2 separate regions of the Homo sapiens genome follow, and region 2 is linked to region 1. The links come from fine-mapping of genetic effects on gene expression. Tissue or cell type: nasal epithelium. Region 1 holds a variant in brackets; the other region holds the start of a gene. All regions are shown on one strand. Distances are between the middles of the regions.

Region 1 (10,163 bases):
AGAGAGGGAGCTGACCCTGGATTGTCCATGTGGGCCCAAAGCAGTCATGAAGGTCCTTCCAAGAGGGTGACAGGAGTGTCAGAGTCAGAGAGTAAGCTATGATGATGGATGAGTGGCGAGAGAGATGACATTGCTGGCTTCAAAGATGGAGGAAGGAGCCACGAGGCAAGATACAAAGGCGGCCTCTAGAAACCAAAAGAGCAGGGATGAGACTCTTCCCAGGAGCCTCCAGAGGGAAGTAATCCTGTCTGCACCTTGATTTTAGCCCAGCAAAGCTTGTGTGGAACTTCTAACCTCCAGAATTGTAAGATGATACGCGTGTGTTGTTTTAAGCTACAAGGTATGTAACTTGTGAAGAGCCGTAATAAAAAACTAACACAATAAGTATGCCAAATTAAGGGAAGGAGAAGATGCTGGGATCCCCCCAATGTCTTTGTCAAAAATAAAACAGATTCAGTGTTATAGATGAGCAACCTGGTCTGACCTTCTCTCCACCCTCTGGTCCATCATCTCAGTGATTTTCACACTCATTATGTTTACTTGGTCACCACCACCGCTGTCCTGCTTGCCACCATCCAGTTCCACACCTCTTTCTCATGTGCTCGGCTGGAATGAATCCTGTCCTCTTTGGACTGGTAATAGAGAGGTACCTAGATCTTTTTTTTTTTAGACGGAGTTTCGCTCTTGCTGCCCAGGCTGGAGTGCAGTGGCGTGATCTCAGCTCACCGCAACCTCTGCCTCCCGGGTTCAAGCAATTCTCCTGCCTCAGCCTCCCGAATAGCTGGGATTACAGGCGTGCACCACCACGCTCAGCTAATTATGTATTTTTAGTAGAGACGGGGGTTTCTCCATGTTGGTCAGGCTGGTCTCAAACCCCTGACCTCAGGTAATCCACCGGCCTTGGCCTCCGAAAGTGCTGGGATTACAGGCGTGAGCCACTGTGCCTGGCTGCAGAGGTACCTAGATCTTTTATATCTGTTTCTTGTCTGTGTCTCACCTCTCCAACTAAAAACCTTTTTAAAACTATCATGTGAGATTCAAACTAATGGTGAACAAGTAAGTGTGACTAATACTACAACAAACATGCTGACAATGTCAAAACGAAGGGTCATCAGATGGATGGGATGGATGTAACTAAGCAACACAGAAATTCTAGAACAAGTCCCTTGCAGGGAAGGCTTGGCTAGCAGCCAGCACAAACTACTCTATAGTAGTAACCAACCAATGCAAGCTTTTGTTCAATGACAGCAGAATTTGGCATTAATACACTTCACAGCCCCAAAAACCTATCTGGAGTTATCCATAGATGCATTTGGTGATTTCATAAAATGTTTGTTCTTGTTTTCTGTATAAGTATACTTTGATCAAAATGTGAATAATTAAATCTTTTGGGATAGAGACTAAGAAAAAAATCTTACTCATTTTTTCTCATTTGATAAAATAACTTATAGGACACCAGTCTGAGCAACATAACTAGACCCTGTCTCTACAAAAAAATTAAAAAATTACCCAGGTGTGGAGGCACAGGCCTGTAGTCCTAGCTACCGGGGAGGCTGACGCAGGAGGGTCGCTTGAGCCCAGCAGTTTGAGGCTGCAGTGAGCTATGACTGTAAGAGAGTGAGACCCTGTCTCTCAAAAAAAAAAAAAAAAACCAAAACAAAGAAAATTATAGGACACTAAAGAAGATCAGCAACAAGATTTCTAATGATGCTTGAAGTATGAAAATGCGTTATAATTGTCTCATTTTCTATGGGCTAAAAATGTAAAATGATATGTTATACAACTCAAAAACATGTCAAAGGTACTAACATATTAAAATAGAGCTGGTTTTATTTAATACTATCACTTCATTGGATCAAGAGACAGTCGCAGGACAGGGAATTTCTGCATACATCATGGATTTGCTCCCTAAGGTAGATGCACAGGTAGACGGTTTCTTTTTCTTTTTCTTTTTTTTTCCAAGACGGAGTTTCGCTCTTGTCGTCCAGGCTAGAGTGCAGTGGCACGATCTCGGCTCCCTGCAACCTCCACCTCCCGGGTTTAAGTGATTCTCCTGCCTCAGCCTCTGGAGTAGCTGGGATTACAGGCACACACCACCACGCACAACTAATTTTTGTATTTTTAGTAGAGACGGGGTTTCACCATGTTGGCCAGGCTGGTCTCGAACTCCTGACCTCGTGATCTGCCTGCCTTGGCCTCCTGAAGTGCTGGGATTATAGGCGTGAGCCACCGCACCTGGCCTTTTTTGTTTTGTTTTGTTTTGTTTTTGAGACGGAGTTTTGCTCTTGTTGCCCAGGCTGGAGTGCAATGGTGTGATCTCGGCTCACTGCAACCTCTGCCTCTCAGGTTCAAGTGATTCTCCTGCCTCGGCCTCCTGAGTAGCTGGGATTACAGGCATGCACCACCACCTCTGGCTAATTTTGTATTTTTAGCAGAGACAGGGTTTCTCCATGTTGGTCAGGCTACTCTCAAACTCCCGACCTCAGGTGATCCGCCCGCCTCAGCCTCCCAAAGCACTGGGATTACAGGTGTGAGCCACCACACCTGGCCCACAGGTAGACATTTTCTACATTGTTATAGAGATCTAGAGGCTAGTCATTTCTGTCTTTTTTTTTTTTGAGATGGAGTCTCGCTCTGTTGTCCAGGCTGGAGTGCAGTGCTGTGATCTCGGTCACTGCAACCTCTGCCTCCCAAGTTCAAGTGATTCTCCTGCTTCAGCCTGCTGAGTACCTGGGACTACAGATGTGCACCACCATGCCTGTCTAATTTTTGTTATTTTTTAGTAGAGATGGGGTTTTACCATGTTGACCAGGCTGGTCTCAAACTCCTGGCCTCAAGTGTCCCACCCGCCTCAGCCCCCTAAAGTGCTGCGATTACAGGCATGAGCCACTGCACCCAGCCTAGGCTACTCATTTCTAAAAAGAGAATAGGAAAAATGGGAGGAACTGGGATGATCTGGAACCTGAGACTACATAAGCATTTCAAGTAAAGGGAAAAAAAAAAATCAACAAATGTTCAGCTAGAAATAAGTTATTTTATTTTAAAACACATACAGATTAATAAATATTACTGGAAAACTTAATAGCCTTTTTATTTACATGAGGCAATAACAACATGCTATGACTACATCTATAAAGCAAAATATAAGCAGGTCTTGGCCACTGACACATGTGTCTATGTATGCTAATTGGAAGCTCCCCAATACATGTCTATGACAAAACTTTTACACAACCAATCAACATTTGACATTTTTTACATCTTCTTCCTCTCATGATTATATTCCATTTTCAAGAAAATAATAGTTATCCTTTGAAAAGGCAAAACGCTCAAGCCACTGAAAAACAGTATCTAAATTTCTGTAAAGTGCAAAAATACTAAGGTGGGGGGCAATTATTATATTCTGACAAATAAATATTCTGAACTTTTCAACATGACCCTTTGGCACTAGTGGTTTGGGAGCCCTGACATTCGCCTGGTGTCAGTTCAGCATCAGGGTTGAGCTGCTTGGAAGCAGGAAGTTCAGCGTCATTTATTACAAATCCAGTGCAACAGAATCCACGTGTTTCACAGGCCATTAAATCTTTTTCAGAATACAGACCTCGGCCGAATGTCAGGAGCACATCACACCATCGGAAGGTGATCTTTCTGTGCGGCTTTCTGAAGTCCCTGTTTAATTTCCATATTTTACAATAGAACATATAAAACCCTTTCTTTTAAAACAAAAAAAGGAAAACTAAAGCTTCATGGAATCATGCAAACTTTACACCCAGCACTTCCTTTGCTTTCTCAGCGCATGAGGCTGTGTGTCCTACAGCATGGTCCTGAGCAGACTCCATGGTCCGTGCAAGCGGAGTTTCCACTGTGCCACTCCCAGGCACTTCTGAACACGGTGCTCTCATCTCAGGCCACCAGAACACTGCTGAAAGTGCCGGTGTTTTAGAAACAATTTGAAGAACCATCCCACCCCTTTAGAGGTAGAAAAACTGAGGCACAGAAAGGTTAAGAGACTCACCTATGTTTGCACAATTTAGGGAAAAATAGAGAAAAGAAGAAAAACATCCTCCTCCCTGGCTCATGCTCTGGGCCCTGGATTCTGCTTTTTAAATGCTTTTGGGTACATGTGAAATAGATGTTTATTTACATGATCCTTGTTCTACTGAATATCAACTTTTTACTAGACAACATATTTTGATGTAACAAAGTTACATTTTCTTAAAATATAATTATGTTGTTGCACGTGAGGAATGTGAATGAAACAAATGAGTCGTGGTAGTGGGCCAAATTCTCACTGCTGTTCCTGTAATTCTGAACCTTTTCAAGTATACAATGGAGGTATAAGAATCTGGCCAGATGTGAAACATCACCTATAAGCTAAAGGACAGACCCTTAAAATTCATCACCAGTACAATTGTGAGGTGGAAATGAGGAATACAAAAAATTGAGGTATTTTATATGATAAACTGTCTTGTGGTGTGACTGGTGTACAAATTGGTCTTTTCTTTCCAACTCACATTAACAGAATCTACCTATGAATATGAGTAAAACCTATGAAAAATGAACACGGATATGTCCTTGGGAGGAAGGTCACTGTTAAGGAGTCAATGATACATTTTTGGTCCCTGAGAAGGCAAAACACCAAGACTCCATCCAATCCCGCCTGATGGACGAACAACGCCCTCGGTGTCAGACACCATGAAAAGAACAACTTCAGAACACGGAAGCTAATCCATGCTGTCGGGAACAGACCTTACACTGAAATGTTCTCTTTCTAGTTTCCTGCTTGGTGGCAGGAAGCCTAAGTCAGCATCGAGCAGGTGTCAGGTCGAAGCGGCACAACGGGAGGGGCTCTGGGAACCACCGGAGTACTCTCTCCCCTCTTCTGGGTTAGCTGAGCAGCTTGAAGAAGAGGAATCCCCCGACCAGACAGAAGGGCAGCAGCCTGTGCCCATCACACCTGTTTCCACGGACCAGGTGTCCGTGCACACCTGGGAGACACTGCATCTCCAAAGTCTAGAACTGGCCCCTAGAAGTTGAGCACAACATTTACAAAGAGCTGAGTCATCTAGGAAGAAGGAAAATAAGACGACTGCACAAGTGAACAGTGCTCACTTCTACCAGAAAACAGATGTGAAATCCAAAGAAGAACAAACACCAACATATTACCGCTGGGATGAACTTCTGGAAAGACAACTGGGTGTAGTAAATTGGCTTGAAGAGCAGGAATTGAAAGAATATTCCTTATTGCTGAACAAAGAGCTGCGAAGTATATTCACTAACATTCTGATAGGAAAAGATCTCAATGAGAGCTGAGCAAGGCCACCAGAATACCAAATTCCTCCCCAAAGTCCCCAGCATGGGCAGGGCCTCACTCCATGTGGCACTGGAAGGACTTCCCTCCCCAGCACCTTCTCCACAGAGATGGCATGGTCCTGCCAGCCGGGAAGATGCTCCAGGGGGGCTTTGTGGTGCTGGGTTAGGGTTAGAATCCTTAATTGGCCCTACCTTTGATCAATGAGCAGAACAGGAAGCAATCCTTTCAAATGCAAATATTCAGAGGAGAAAACAAGGCATTGCCCAAGAAGAGGAGAGAAATAGCCTATTTAAGTATCTATCAAGAGAAATCTGCATATTGTGATCAAAACCTTTGATTTTAGAGGATGCTTGAAAACAAGTATACAGTAAGCATCTTTTTTTTCAAAGAATAGTATGATAATGAAAATATTTCAAGTACATGTACTTTTGGAAAGACCACTAAGAGATCTATCCATGTTCTAGGCCCTCCCCCAAAGTTCTCACTTTGGGGCTTTTTCATTTTCAAATGAATGATGAAAACATAATTTTTTAAAATAAATACTATCAAATCAGAAGTTATATGCTCTATATTAAATTTGAAAATTAGACTGTTCAACCACTGGTCATGTCATTTACTTTGAGGCTGGTGTCACGTGCTTGAAAAACAATGGATGATATGAACTTTGTTTCACTGGAAGAAAAGCTATGTATCCTACTGAAGTATCTGCTGAACAGAGGTAAACCTGAAAGATTCTAACTGTCCCAGGACCAGTCACCTTCAAGGGTAGAAGAGCTATTAATACTTTTGAGATTTTGTTTTACTCTAAGAATATTATAGAGAAGATCA[T/C]CGGGTATCACCTCTCAGTATCAATGGTATAATTGTGGATTAAAATATACTAAGGTACACCAAGAGCTGCCTTTAAACTAAATTTCCCACAAAAGCTGTAGCAACACAAACATGATCATTTTCATGTGACACATGAACTTTCTCATTACACTTGTTAGCCACATGTATTCTTTGAATATCTCACACCCCTTACCTAGGAAACTATTTTTATGCCCAAAAGTATATTGATACTGCTACATTACGTTTTCAGAAAGTTCAGTTCAGTAAGTTAAGGCCTGCATTTCTAAAAGCACTGATGATAAAACACAAAACCTGCAAGAGCCAATAAAAAGAGTAATGGACTTTGAGCATTTGTTAACCATCCATTGAGAGGATTTAAGATTTTTAAAAAATAATGTTGTTGCTGCTCTCAGTTCACAAATCACTGACAACCCATGATCATCATGTACACGTTTACTCCATAAAGGTATTTTTCTCTCTATATTAAACTAGTCTCATTTTATTTAGCCTCTTTACTCAACACTTTAGGAAGCTATTCCTTGAGACTTTAGAAATGTTCTTTTTGCCTACAAAAACACATTTTTTTTCTTACTGAGGAACTTTAATTGGGTACTATTCAATTTTATGTTCTACTTCACCTAATCTACTTTACCCAACCCCATCTTTCAACTTGGCGTAGTTCCCTGCTGAGATAAAACACTGGCCATGAAGTACATGATACCGTGGTGAAATATGTGCATCACTTCATGCTATGCTCCCATTTGGAACACATGGATGGGAACACTATAGACAGAGAATGACCTCTTTGATTCAAATACTGGCATAATTAATGGCTCTTTTGCATTTAAGACACATAATGAGAGGTTAGCTGAGGAACTCTAGGATGCTCTGCCATTGCAAACAACAAGGAGATGGCTACATTTATTGGCTTTTTGTTAGAAAATCTTTCAAAAACTGCATATTGCAATTTGTAGAAGCTAGCCTAACCTCAATTGTGTCCTTTAACTTGTTCCTGTATGACAGGGTACTCGATATATGAGCTATTGAACAGGTACTCTCCCACTTAGCCTTATTATCAAGTTACCTAATTTATTTCTTCTGAATGGCCATGAATGCTTGCTGATAAAGAATGTGGATATATTTGATACTGGATCCCAGGTAACACAGATCGAATACAAATAAAATAATACCTCATGCTACTTAAATCAACTGTCTTTAATTGGACAATAATCACATGTTAAAGGGGTCAATTTGCTCTAATGTGTCTTTAGTCTTGACTATCTTCCAGTGAATATACAGTCATGAACCACGTAACCATGTTTCTGTCAAAGACATACCACTTACATGACGGTGGTCCCATAACATTGTAATACCATAGTTTTACTGTACCTTTCCTATGTTTGTAAACACAAATACTCACCACTGTGTTACAATTGCCTGCGGTATTCAGTGCGGTCACATGCTGTACAGGTGTGTGGCCCAGGAGCAACAGGCTGTACCATCTGGCCTGGGTGGGTCATAGGTGTCCCATCTAGGTTTGTATAAGTGCACTCCATGATGTTCACACAATAAAGTCACCTTACAATGCATTTCTCAGAATGTTTCCCTATCATTAAGTGACATGTGACTGTATTATTTCTAACTGCCTTATACATTTGTAACTTGAATATTGAAATATTAAAGCATACTCGAAGTTGCATTATTCTAATCTAAGAACATATACACATTAAGAGTCAAATTAAGTTAATAATTCAAGTGATAAAGGCACTGAAATTGATTTGAGCTATTGAAAAGTCATCCTGCCAGTGGAACACTACCTCATGTTCATTAACTCTTCTCTCTCTCTCTATTTACTATTAAAATGTCTTGGGTGGGGGTGGGGGTCGAAGAGTCAACTTGTCAGAGGATTAAAAACAATTCAATGTATATGCCTCTTATTTGGATGACATACTTGAATGTTATACATGCTTAATGCAAACTAACACAACTACAGACACATTCACTGTACAGTGCCAGAGTTCAAGACAACAATCTCTCATTCCCAAAGTAATCTAAGTAAAAATATCTCTGCTATCATGTAACAACTAACCAGAAAGAGCCCATCTTTTTCTGTTTAAATAATGTTAAAATGTTTTAAAAGAAGAGAATATTCATGAAAGCTTCCAGGTTAATGGAAATGAAAATGAGATTCGTCTCATCAGAGAGAGATGGTGCCAGGCAACCGTTGGGGACGTTTGGGCTGCAGAGGGCTGGCTGGGCCTCTGCTCTGGTGCTGAGCCATGCTCCCCGCTATCCACCAGACCACCTGTTACTATCCAGTCAATTCTAACACCATGATCGAGGACCTCTTCTACTTCACATCCAATCACGGCCAGAAACCACCTCCAATGCCTATTCCTCGAACCATCCAAGCTCCTATTGCAATCTAGTCTGTTTTCATATTAGATTTGTTCATCTCCCCAAGGTTGAAATTGAACTCTTTGAACACCTGTATAAGGACAATCCCCACGGAGACGGTCGTGAATCCACAGGCCATCCCCAAGAAGTCCACCAGGCCCACGTTGCTCCACTCCCGGAAGAGGATGGCTGAGGCCAGCAGGACCAGCGTGGTAAACACGACGTAGTAGATGGCCCCGAACACCGAGGAGTCGAAGCACTCCAGCGCCTTGTTGATGTACCTGAACTGGACGATGATGCTGCAGCCGAGCACGGCCAGGAGTACCAGGCACAGGCAGAGGGCTCTCTGACTGGACGGGTTGTTATGCAAGATGTCTTGGGCCGCCAGCCCGATGCCCTTGGTGGAAGGCACGGTGAAACTGCCCAGCAAGGAGCAGATGCTGATGTAGACCATGATGTTGGTGGGCCCATGGGCCGGCGCGATCCAGAAGATGAGCAGCAGCAGCATGAGCAGCACGATGCACAGGTAGCCCACAAACACTGGAACACAGACAGCACACAGTCACCCGGAGCCACCGCCTAGCAGCCGCAACCCAGGAGGTGGACTGGGGCAGCACCCGGGCCCCCACCCGCCACCCGCCACCGGCCTCTACTGCGGCACAGCCCTGGGGAGCATGTGGGCTCTGGCTTGAATTTACCAGACCCACTGATTTCATTCCACAAAAGTATTCCCATCATTTTCACTGTTAAAACATTTACAGCCGGGTTAGCCAGACGCGGTGGCTCATGCCTGTAATCCCAGCACTTTGGGGGGCCAAGGCAGGTGGATCATGAGGTCAGGAGTTCAAGACCAGCCTGGCCAAGATGGTGAAACCCCGTCTCTACTAAAAGTACAAAAATTACAGCGCGCCTGTAATCCCAGCTACTTGGGAGGCTGAGGCAGGAGAATCACTTGAACCTAGGGGGTGGAGGTTGCAGTGAGCCGAGATCAAACCACTGTACTCCAGCCTGGGTGACAGAGCAAGACTCCATCTCAGAAAAAAAAAAAAAAATTTACAGAAGGGCACAATGGCTCACACCTGTAATCCCAGCACTTTGGGAGGCCGAGGTGGGCCGATCAGGAGATCAATACCATCCTGGCTAACTTGGTGAAACCCTGTTCTCCACTAAAAATACAAAAAATTAGCTAGGCGTGGTGGCATGCACCAGTAATCCCAGCTACTCAGGAGGCTGAGGCAGGAGAATCGCTTGAACCCGGGAGGCAGAGGTTGCAGTGAGCCGAGATCACACCACTGCACTCCAGCCTGGGCGACAGAGCAAGAGTCCGTCTCAAAAAAAAAAAAAAAAAAAAAAAAAAAACCATTTACAGCTCCTAAATGTTTACATGGTCCTCTATTGGAACCATTCTCTTTTTTTCTTGTTGTTTGTTTTGTTTTTTTGAGATGGAGTTTTGCTCTTTGTTGCCCAGGCTGGATTGCAATAGCACGATCTCTGCTCACTGCAACCTCCACCTCCCAGGTTCAAGCGATTCTCCTGCTTCAGCCTCCTGAGTAGCTGGGAATACATAAGCACCCGCCACCACGCCTGGCTATTATATTTTTAGCAGAGACGGGGTTTCGCCATGTTG
Region 2 (9,156 bases), 41 kb after region 1:
TCACCAGAACTTGACTCCCCTGAAGATGAGACTATCTAGAATCTCAAATCTAGAAATGCTACCACCTGGCAATTCATTTAGAGTTTAAACTTTCATTGTTTAGCTTCCACTTGTAAGTGAGAACATGCGGTTTTTGACTTTCAGACATACAGAGTGGAATAACAGACATTGGAAACTCCAAATGAACAGGAATGAAAGGAAGTAAAGTAGACTTGGAAGAGGGCCAAGCGGGCAACTTGAGAGATCAAGTGCCTTCATTAATTTCATACTTCGCCAGTGACCACCCAGTGCCACTGATACAGGCTAGCTGGGTTAACCTGAAGGGAAGGGTGGGAGCGATGAAATATTATATTCAGGTGATGTTACATTAAAAGCCCAGACTTCACCACTGTGCAATATAACCATATAACATAACTGCATTTGTACCCCTAAATCCATCCAAAAATTTAAAAAATTTTTAAAGCTTAAAATTTCAGTAAGACACAACTTTTTCCAGCATAAGGAACGTCACGCTAGGTCTCCCTTAAAGCAAGAACTTCATTCTCTGGTGCTTGCGTATCTCCCCTCTCCTCCCTCATCCTCTATTTCTGTCATTTCATACTGGTCAATTCTGCTGCTTGCAACAGATGTAGGAAAGGATTTTATGGCGAGTAGATTTTAAAACTGCTGTATTCTCAACACCTACACAATGCCTGGTGCATTACAAGAGCTTCATCAAGGCCAAGCATGGTGGCTCACGCCTGTAATCCCAGCACTTTGGGAGGTCAAGGTGGGTGGATCACCTGAGTTTGGAAGTTCGAGACCAGCCTGACCAATATGGAGAAACCTGTCTCTACTAAAAACACAAAATTAGCCAGGCGTGGTGGTGCATGCCTATAACCCAACTACTCGGGAGGCTGAGGCAGGAGAATCGCTTGAACCCGGGAGGTGGAAGTTGCAGTGAGATTGCACCATTGCACTCCAGCCTGGGCAACAAAAGCAAAACTCCGTCTCAAAAAAAAAAAAAAAAGCACTTTGGGAGGCCGAGGCGGGAGGATCACAAGGTCAGGAGATCGAGACTGGTGACAGAGCAAGACTCCATCTCAAAAACAAAACAAAAACAAAAAAAGCTTCATCAGTATCTGTTGAACAAATCAAAGCAGACATTGAAACAAGACTCTATGTCTATCTTCTACCACCATGAGTAACACAGCTAGCCTGAATCAGTGGCACTGGGTGGTCACTGGGGAAGTATGAAATTAATGAAGGCCTCTGATCTCTCAAGTTGCCAGCTTGGCCCTCTTCAAAGTCTACTTTACTTCCTTTCATTCCTGTTCTAAAGCTTTTAAATAAACTTTTGACAGGGCATGGTGGCTCAGACCTGTAATCCCACCACTTTGGGAGGCCAAGGTGGGCAGATCATCTGAGGTCAGGAGTTCAATACCAGCCTGGCCAACATGGTGAAACCCCGTCTCTGCTAAAATACAAAAATTAGCTGGACATGGTAGCGTGTACCTGTAATCCCAGCTACTCAGGAGCCTAAGACAGGAGAATTGCTTGAGCCTAGGAGGCGGGGGCTGCAATGAGCCAAGATCGCGCCACTGCACTCCAGCCTGGGTGACAGAGCTAGACTCCATCTCCAAAAAAAAACTTTCATTCCTGCTCTAAACCTTGCCTAGGTCTCCTTCTGCTTTGTGCCCCTCAGCCAAATTCTTTCTTCTGAGGAAGCAAGAATTGAGGTTGTTGCAGTCCCACATGGATTCCCCACTGGTAACATACTTTGGTGCCACATGACTCGGAAATGTTCCCTAGTGTAAGACACCTCCATGCCTCCCTCGCCTTCTTCGGCGGGAGGTGCTCAACCCCCATACAAGTTTTCTTCTCCTTTTCTCTCCTACTTACTAACCAAATCCCAAAACAATTCCTCTCAGCCGTAAGTGACTCTGCCCCGCCGGCTGGTCTCTCAGCTCACCTTGATGGGTGGCTCACAGGGATGGAAAGGACCTTGGGTCCAGACCGGGAAGAACTGAGGTGCTAATGGCCTCCTGGACGGGAGGCTCTGAAGAGTCATAGAGCTAAAGCCTAACACCATGCAATGTCTGGGGCTTAAAATAAATAATGAAAATCACAAGTTCACTTTGATCAATTTAAAACCATAATATAGGCCGAGTGTTGGTGGCTCACGCCTGTAATCCCAGCATTTTGGGAGACTGAGGTGGGCAGATCACCTGAGGTCTGGAGTTCGGGACCATCCTGGCCAACATGATGAAACCCCATCTCCAGTAAAAGCACAAAATTAGCCAGATATGGTGGCACGCGCCTGTAATCCCAGCTCGGGAGGCTGTGGCAGGCGAATCGCTTGAACCCGGGAGGCAGAGGTTCAGTGAGCCAAGATCGCGCCATTGCACTCCAGCCTGGGCAACAAGAGCGAAACTCCGTCTCAAAAAAAAATCATAATAAAAAATAAATAAATGAATGAAAGCATAGTATATAGGTATAAGAAACAGCATTTATCTTTTTTTTTTTTTTTTTTAAGACAGAGCCTTGTTCTTCTCGCTCGGGCTGGAGTGCAATGGCACAATTTTGGCTCACTGCAACCTCCCCCTCCTGGGTTCAAGCAATTCTCCTGCCTCAGCCTCCCGAGTAGCTGGGATTACAGGTGTGAGCCACTGCACCCAGCTTATCATGTTTTTTTTAAAAGGCTACTCGCTTGTTTATTTTCCTATTCACCAATTCCTTTGAGCCACATGACCTGGGTTGAAATAACACAGTTTTCCTCAACTTTTTAGAAAACTAACTAAAGCTGGTATTCAGCTTTCCTTCGTTTTTCCCTAATGTCTTACATCTGGTGTTCACGTGTTCTTAGGCTCCTCCTGGTTGTGACGTGCTTTCAGATTCCATGACCTTCACAGAGGACTGGTCAGGTGTACTGCAAGATTTTTTTTTTTTTTTTTGAGATGGAGTCTTGCTCTGCCGCCCAGGCTGAGTGCAGTGGCGGATCCCGGCTCACTGCAACCTCTGTCTCCCGGGTTCAAGAGACTCTCCTGCCTCAGCCTCTCGAGTAGCTGGTACTACAGGTGCGTGCCACCACACCGGGATAATTTTTTGTATTTTTAGTAGAGATGGGGTTTCGTCGTGTTAGCCAGGATGGTCTAGATCTCCTGACCTTGTGACCCGCCCGCCTCGGCCTCCCAAAGTGCTGGGACTACAGGCACCAGCCACCGCGCCCGGCCGCAAGATGTTCTTCTACTCCGGTTTGTGTGGTGTTTTCCTCATGCTTACGCTAGGGCCGTGGATTGGGGAGGTGAGGTGCTTTCTCAGGCCATCCTATTTATAAGGTCACGCGCGTTGACCATCTCACCCAGTCCTGGGGCCTGTCACACGGACAGATGCTCCCTGAAGTGTGGCTGCGGTGTGTGTGTATCTGTGTGCCTTAGAGACAGACACATCTGCATCCTTGGAAAATCATACTTGGTTTTATTTAATTCTATTTAAATTGTATGGGAGACCACTATGCTTTCACTTTAAAGCTAAATTCCTTAAATTATCCATGATTTTATATTTTCATTCGAGACTGTCGGGCCCTTTATCTCTTCTCTGAAGCCAACGCCTGGCTCACTCAGAGAAAGTTTCACCTGCATTCCGCCATGTAAATTACGAGTTCACTTTCTCTCACAACCCAAGAGTCGGGGGCCACATCCTTCCCAGAGAGCTCTTAATATTCTTCTTCTAAGAGTATGGCCAAGAACCACAAGACTTTCTCAGTCCCTCTGGAAGCAATGGAAACGGACTGTTTCACAGCCTGCCATATCCTGCATTGGCAAACCGGTCCCGTCCGGGGCCTCCCAGCACAAACGACACTGACAGAGAGCTCTACCCCGCAGAGCACTACGGAGTGCGGTGCTGCGGCACATCCACCTGGGAAGTGGCCTTGGCCCGTCCAGGGCTTGGTTTTGGATCTGCCGCGCGTGTTCTCCAAACTGAAGATCACTTGTATTCATTTGGTGCAGGTCTAAGGCGCAGCGGGCTCCGTAAGAGCACCCCAGGAACGCACAGCCCTGAGAGCCCGCCCGGGTCTTCCTTTTGCACCAGCGAGGCCCCTGCGGGGGACTGGAAATCCCAGGTCTTGCTCTACCGAGCGTACCCTAGGAGCGGGCCGCGCATCGGCTGAAGCGGCGCTTCCAGGCGGGCGCTGGGCTCGAGCACCCCAGCACCGCGTCCGCAGGAGGCTCCCGGCCGCGGGTTGCGGGCCACGGCGAGGGCTGCCGGGCGGCGCGGGGCAGGTCTTGGACCGAGGGAAAAAGTCAGCCGGGGAAGCCCGCACACCAAAGCAAGCCGCTCCAGCCGCTGAGAACGGAGAAAAGCCGTGGCGTCGGCGAAGCGCCGGACGCTCAGGACGCACCTGTGATTCCTGGGCCGCTCCCGGGCCCGAGCGCCAGGACGCGGCGGCAGCCTGGGCACGCCGCGGGGAGCACCCGCCCGCGCAGCCTTCCCCCAACCTGGGCCCGGGCCCCGACCCCGTCCCCTGCCCCGACCCGGGCGCCCCCACCTGCGACCGCCTTCTCCGCCGCCCGCCTCCCCCACCCGCCCGCCGCCTGCCGCCTGCCGCCCGCCCTACCTCGCCGCTTGGCACGCACGATGCCCTTCTTCTGTAGCACGAACGTGGACCCGTTCACCAGGCTCGACACGACGGCCACGCCCAGGCCGAGCGACACGGCGGCGGGGCTCGGGCTACGCGCCCCCTCCCCGGCCGCCGCCGCCGCCGCCGCCGCCGCTGCCGCAGCTGCAGTCCCCATTCCGCCCGCGCCCGCCCTCCGAGCCTGCGCCTGCGCGCCGCGCCCCGCGGGGCGGGATGGGGGGTGACCGGGAGGCGCGGGCGGGGGAGGGGAGGGGGACGGGTGGGGGAGGAGCAGGAAGAGGGGCGGGGGCGGGACGGGGGTGCCAGGGACCGGCGCCTTAGGCTGCGGGGACAGCAGTGGCGCCGGACGCGGCGGCAGTGAGGGGCCGGTGAGGCGCTGGGTGGGGCGGGGGTTCCCGGATTTCGCAAATGGAAATGCAGGACTCCTGGTTAAGTTTCCAGCGCGGAGAAACACGCATACTTTCTGAGTGGTGTCCTCTGCAATATCCGGGCAGCGGAGCGCGGCAGGACGCACCGGCGGGCAGCGGTCCCCGAAGAGCCTCCAGCGGAGGCCGGCCCAACTCACCGGAGCGCGAAGCCCGGCGCGCCGCTGCAGAGATCGAAGGAGAGCCCTGGCGCTGGGCGTTTCTCTTCCGCCCTTGGCGCTAGAGTCAGCTACATGGGGCTCTGGGCTTGTGATCCCATAGTCTAGTTTCCTCGTTTTAATAAACTACAACAAGCCGGGCGCGGTGGCTCACGCCTGTAATCCCAGCACTTCGGGAGGCCGAGGCGGGTGGATCACAAGGTCAGGAGATCGAGACCATCCTGGCTAACACAGTGAAACCCCGTCTCTACTAAAAATACAAAAAATTAGCTGGGCGTCGTGGCGGAGGCCTGTAGTCCCAGCTACTCGGGAGGCTGAGCCAGGAGAAGGGTGTGAACCCGGGAGGCAGAGCTTGCAGTGAGCGGAGATCACACAACTGCACTCGAGCCTGGGCGACAGAGCGAGACTCCGTCTCAAAAAAAAAAAAAAAAAGAAACAACAACAAAATTACAAGCTTGAAAAATAGGAAAAAGTTATTTTATTTTTTTTGGAAAAAAATATTTTTTAAAGTGACTCAATTCCACAACCCTCACCTAATTATTAGTATTTTAGGTGTTTTCCCATAATGTATACATACTTTTACATGTTTCCAATTACAATATACGAAATTTCCTTTTTATTTAATATATATCAGTTTCTGTATCGGTACATAAATATGATTATTCTAATGACAGTATAATAATTTGTCTAACCATTCAGCCATTGTTGGGTGTTAGGTAGCTACCAGGTTGGTTTGTTTTTTTGAGACAGAGTCTCGCTCTGTCGCCCAGGCTGGAGTGCAATGGCGCGATCTCGGCTCACTGCAACCTTCCGCCTCCCGGATTCAAGCGATTCTCGGCCTCAGCCTCCGAGTATCTAGAATTACAGGCGTCCGCCACCACGCCCGGGTTAATTTTTGTATTTTGAGTAGAGACGCGGTTTCACCATCTTGGCAAGGCTGGTCTTGAACTCCTGACCTCAGGTGATCCGTCCGCTCTACCTCCCAAAGTGCTGGGATTACAGGCGTGAACCACCGCGCCTGGCCGGTTGCTGCCAGGTTTTGTTGTCTATAAACGATGCTACAAGCTGGGCACAGTGGCTCACACCTATAATCCCAGCACTTTGGGGACCGAGGTGGGAGGCTCGCTTGAGCTCAGACGTTCAAGACCAGCCTGGGCAACGTAGCGAGACCCGTCTCTACCAAAAAAAGAAAAAAATTAATTAGCGGGGCGTGGTGGCTTTTACCTCCAACCCCAGATACTCTGGAGGCAGAGGTGGGAGGATGGCTTGAGGTGGAGGTTGCAGTGAGCTGTTATTGCACCACTGCACTCCAGCCTGGGCAACAGAGCAAGATTGTCTCAAAAACAAACGAAAAGTATAAACCTTTTGGCAGCTTTGCATACAGCATTATTATTTTGTGAAGAAATATAAAATAGGGCCGGGGAGGTGGCTCATGACTGTAATCCCAGCACTTTGGGAGGCGGAGGCGGACGGATCCGGAGGTCAGGTGGATGGATCAGGAGGTCAAGAGATCGAGACCATCCTAGCTAACACGATGAAACCCGGTCTCTACTAAAAATACAAAAAATTAGCCGGGCATGGTGGAGGGCGCCTGTAGTCCCAGCTACTCAGGAGGCTGAGGCAGGAGAATGGCGTGAACCCGGGAGGCGGAGCTTGCAGTGAGCCGAGATGGCACCACTGCACTCCAGCCTGGGCGACGGAGTGAGACTCCGTCTCAAAAAAAAAAAGAAAAAAAAAAGAACTCCACCCCAGACATTTTTCCATGTGAGTACATAGGTTAAATGACAGGCATATTTTATCTGATGGGGAAACACATATGGGATTTTAATTAAAAACATAAAACTATATTTTGCTTGAATTTAACAAAAGAAAAACTGAAATGAAACTACAGTAACTACTGAATGACAAACATTATTTTGCCATGAGATATTACTTCCTAAAAGATACACCTAAAATTAAAGTTAGTAGGCCAGGTACAGTGGCTCATGCCTATAATCCCAGTACTTTGGGAGGCCAAGGCCAGCAGATCACTTGAGCCCAGGAGTTTGAGATCAGCCTGGGCAACATGATGAAACCCCATCTCTGCAAAAAAATACAAAAATTAGCCAGGCATGGTGACATGTGCTTGTAGTCCCAGCTACTCAGGAGGCTATGGGAGGATCACTTGACCCCAGAAGTTGAGGCTACAGTGAGCCATGATCACGCCACTGCACTCCAGCCTGGGCAACAGAAGTGAGACCCTGTCTCAAAAAAAAAAAAAAAAAAGTGAGAAACACTAAGAGGGTGGGAGTTACGTTTATTTTAACTCTGGGTTTCAATTTTGGGCTATCAATTGATTCCTTGCAAGGAGAAATGAGGAAATCAGTTCACTTTTCAGCTCCCTAAAAAATTTTTTTTTCGTCTTATGTTTTGAGATGGAGTCTTGCTCTGTCACCCAGGCTGGAGTGCAGTGGCGTGATCTTGGCTCACTGCAACCTACGCTTCATGGGTTCAACCAATTCTCTGCTTCAGCCTCCCAAGTAGCTGGGATTACAGACGCCTGCCACCACGCCTGGCGAATTTTTTTGTATTTTTAGTAGAGACAGGGTTTCACCATCTCGGCCAGGCTGGTCTTGAACTACTGACTTCGTGATCCACCAGCTTCGGCCTCCCAAAGTGCTGGGATTACAGGCGTGAGCCACTGTACCCGGCCAAGAATTGTTTCTTCTCCTTACCTAGGTAGAGACTTCTGTAGAAATGCCGGGAGATTTTTGGAGAGGGGAGATTTTTCTTTTTTTTCTTTTCTTTTCTTTTCTTTTTTTTTTTTTTTGAGATGGAGTCTCGCTCTGTTGCCCAGGCTGGAGTGCAGTGGCGCGATCTTGGCTCACTGCAAGCTCCACCTCCCGGATTCACGCCATTCTCCTGCCTCAGCCTCCCAAGTAGCTGGGACTACAAGCACCCGCCACCATGCCTGGCTAATTTTTTATGTTTTTAGTAGAGATGGGGTTTCACTGCGTTTGCCAGGATGGTCTCGATCTCCTGACCTCATGATGTGCCCGCCTTGGCCTCCCAAAGTGCTGGGATTACAGGCGTGAGCCACCGCGCCCGGTGGGAGATTTTTCAGATAAAAAATTCAGCAGTTTGGGAGGCCAAGGTGGGTGGATCATGAGGTCAGGAGTTGAAGACCAGCCTGGCCAAGATGGTGAAACCCCGTCTCTACTAAAAATACAAAAATTAGCCAGACACAATGGCAGGTGCCTGTAATCCCAGCTACTCGGGAGGCTGAGGTAGGAGAATCCCTTGAACCTGGGTGGCAGAGGTTGCAGTGAGCCGAGATAGCACCACTGCACTCCAGCCTGGGCAATAAGAGTCAGACTCCGTCTAAAAAAAAAAAAAAATTTAATGGATCTAGTTCTAAACCTCATTTTGAATCCACCCACGTTGCTCTGAAATACATTCATCTTTCCTGTGGCTAAAACCTTAAAGCCTAGCCAGTAACTCCCATTGCACTTGAGGAAATCCAGTCTCCTTGCTGTGGCCCCTAACAGGCTGCTGCTGGCCCACCACGGTGCCTCTAGTTTGTGTAAAATGCATATGTTAATTCATAATAAACCATACAAGGCTTTTTTTTTTTTAGCTCTAAAAGGCTATTATTTACTAGTTGCTGTGTGAATCAGTATTTCTGGGTGCAGTTAGAAATTATTAGAGTTAATGCCCAAGACTCATCTCAACCAACACGGGGGAGGGCATCTGCTCCTTTTATGGTCAGTGACTCTGGGCCTCCTTCTGCTGGGCTCAGTCCTGAGGTGGGTCTGACTCAGGTCAGAGCTGTGCACCCCGGCCCTCCTCCCCAACGTGCATGAGTGCTCTTTAGGATGGAGCTGAACACCGGCTTCTCAAAACCATGTGGCCCCATCACAGGCCCTGAGAACTGATTGGGTCACTCTGGTGGGCTCCCCAGCCCTAGACAAGAAGG

The links. PIP is the estimated chance that this variant, and not a neighbour inherited with it, causes the effect.
Region 2: NIPA1 starts here. The variant in region 1 is fine-mapped to the expression of NIPA1 in nasal epithelium (TOPMed, PIP above 0.99).

What each region holds. Positions count from the first base shown.
Region 1 is chr15:22,822,641-22,832,803 of GRCh38, reverse strand. It overlaps NIPA1 (NIPA magnesium transporter 1), which reads right to left. Exons shown (of 5, transcript NM_144599.5): 5 at 3,015-9,076. The coding sequence ends at 8,565. Among named protein-coding and RNA genes, the nearest start is that of NIPA2, 11 kb to the left of the region's middle. RefSeq lists an enhancer at 5,163-5,915. The variant T/C (reference allele first, on the strand shown) is at 6,140.
Region 2 is chr15:22,782,276-22,791,431 of GRCh38, reverse strand. NIPA1 (NIPA magnesium transporter 1) reads right to left here and starts at 4,788. Exons shown (of 5, transcript NM_144599.5): 1 at 4,598-4,788. The coding sequence starts at 4,775. RefSeq lists an enhancer at 3,741-3,850 and silencers at 4,201-4,330, 4,341-4,490, 4,561-4,920, 4,883-5,116.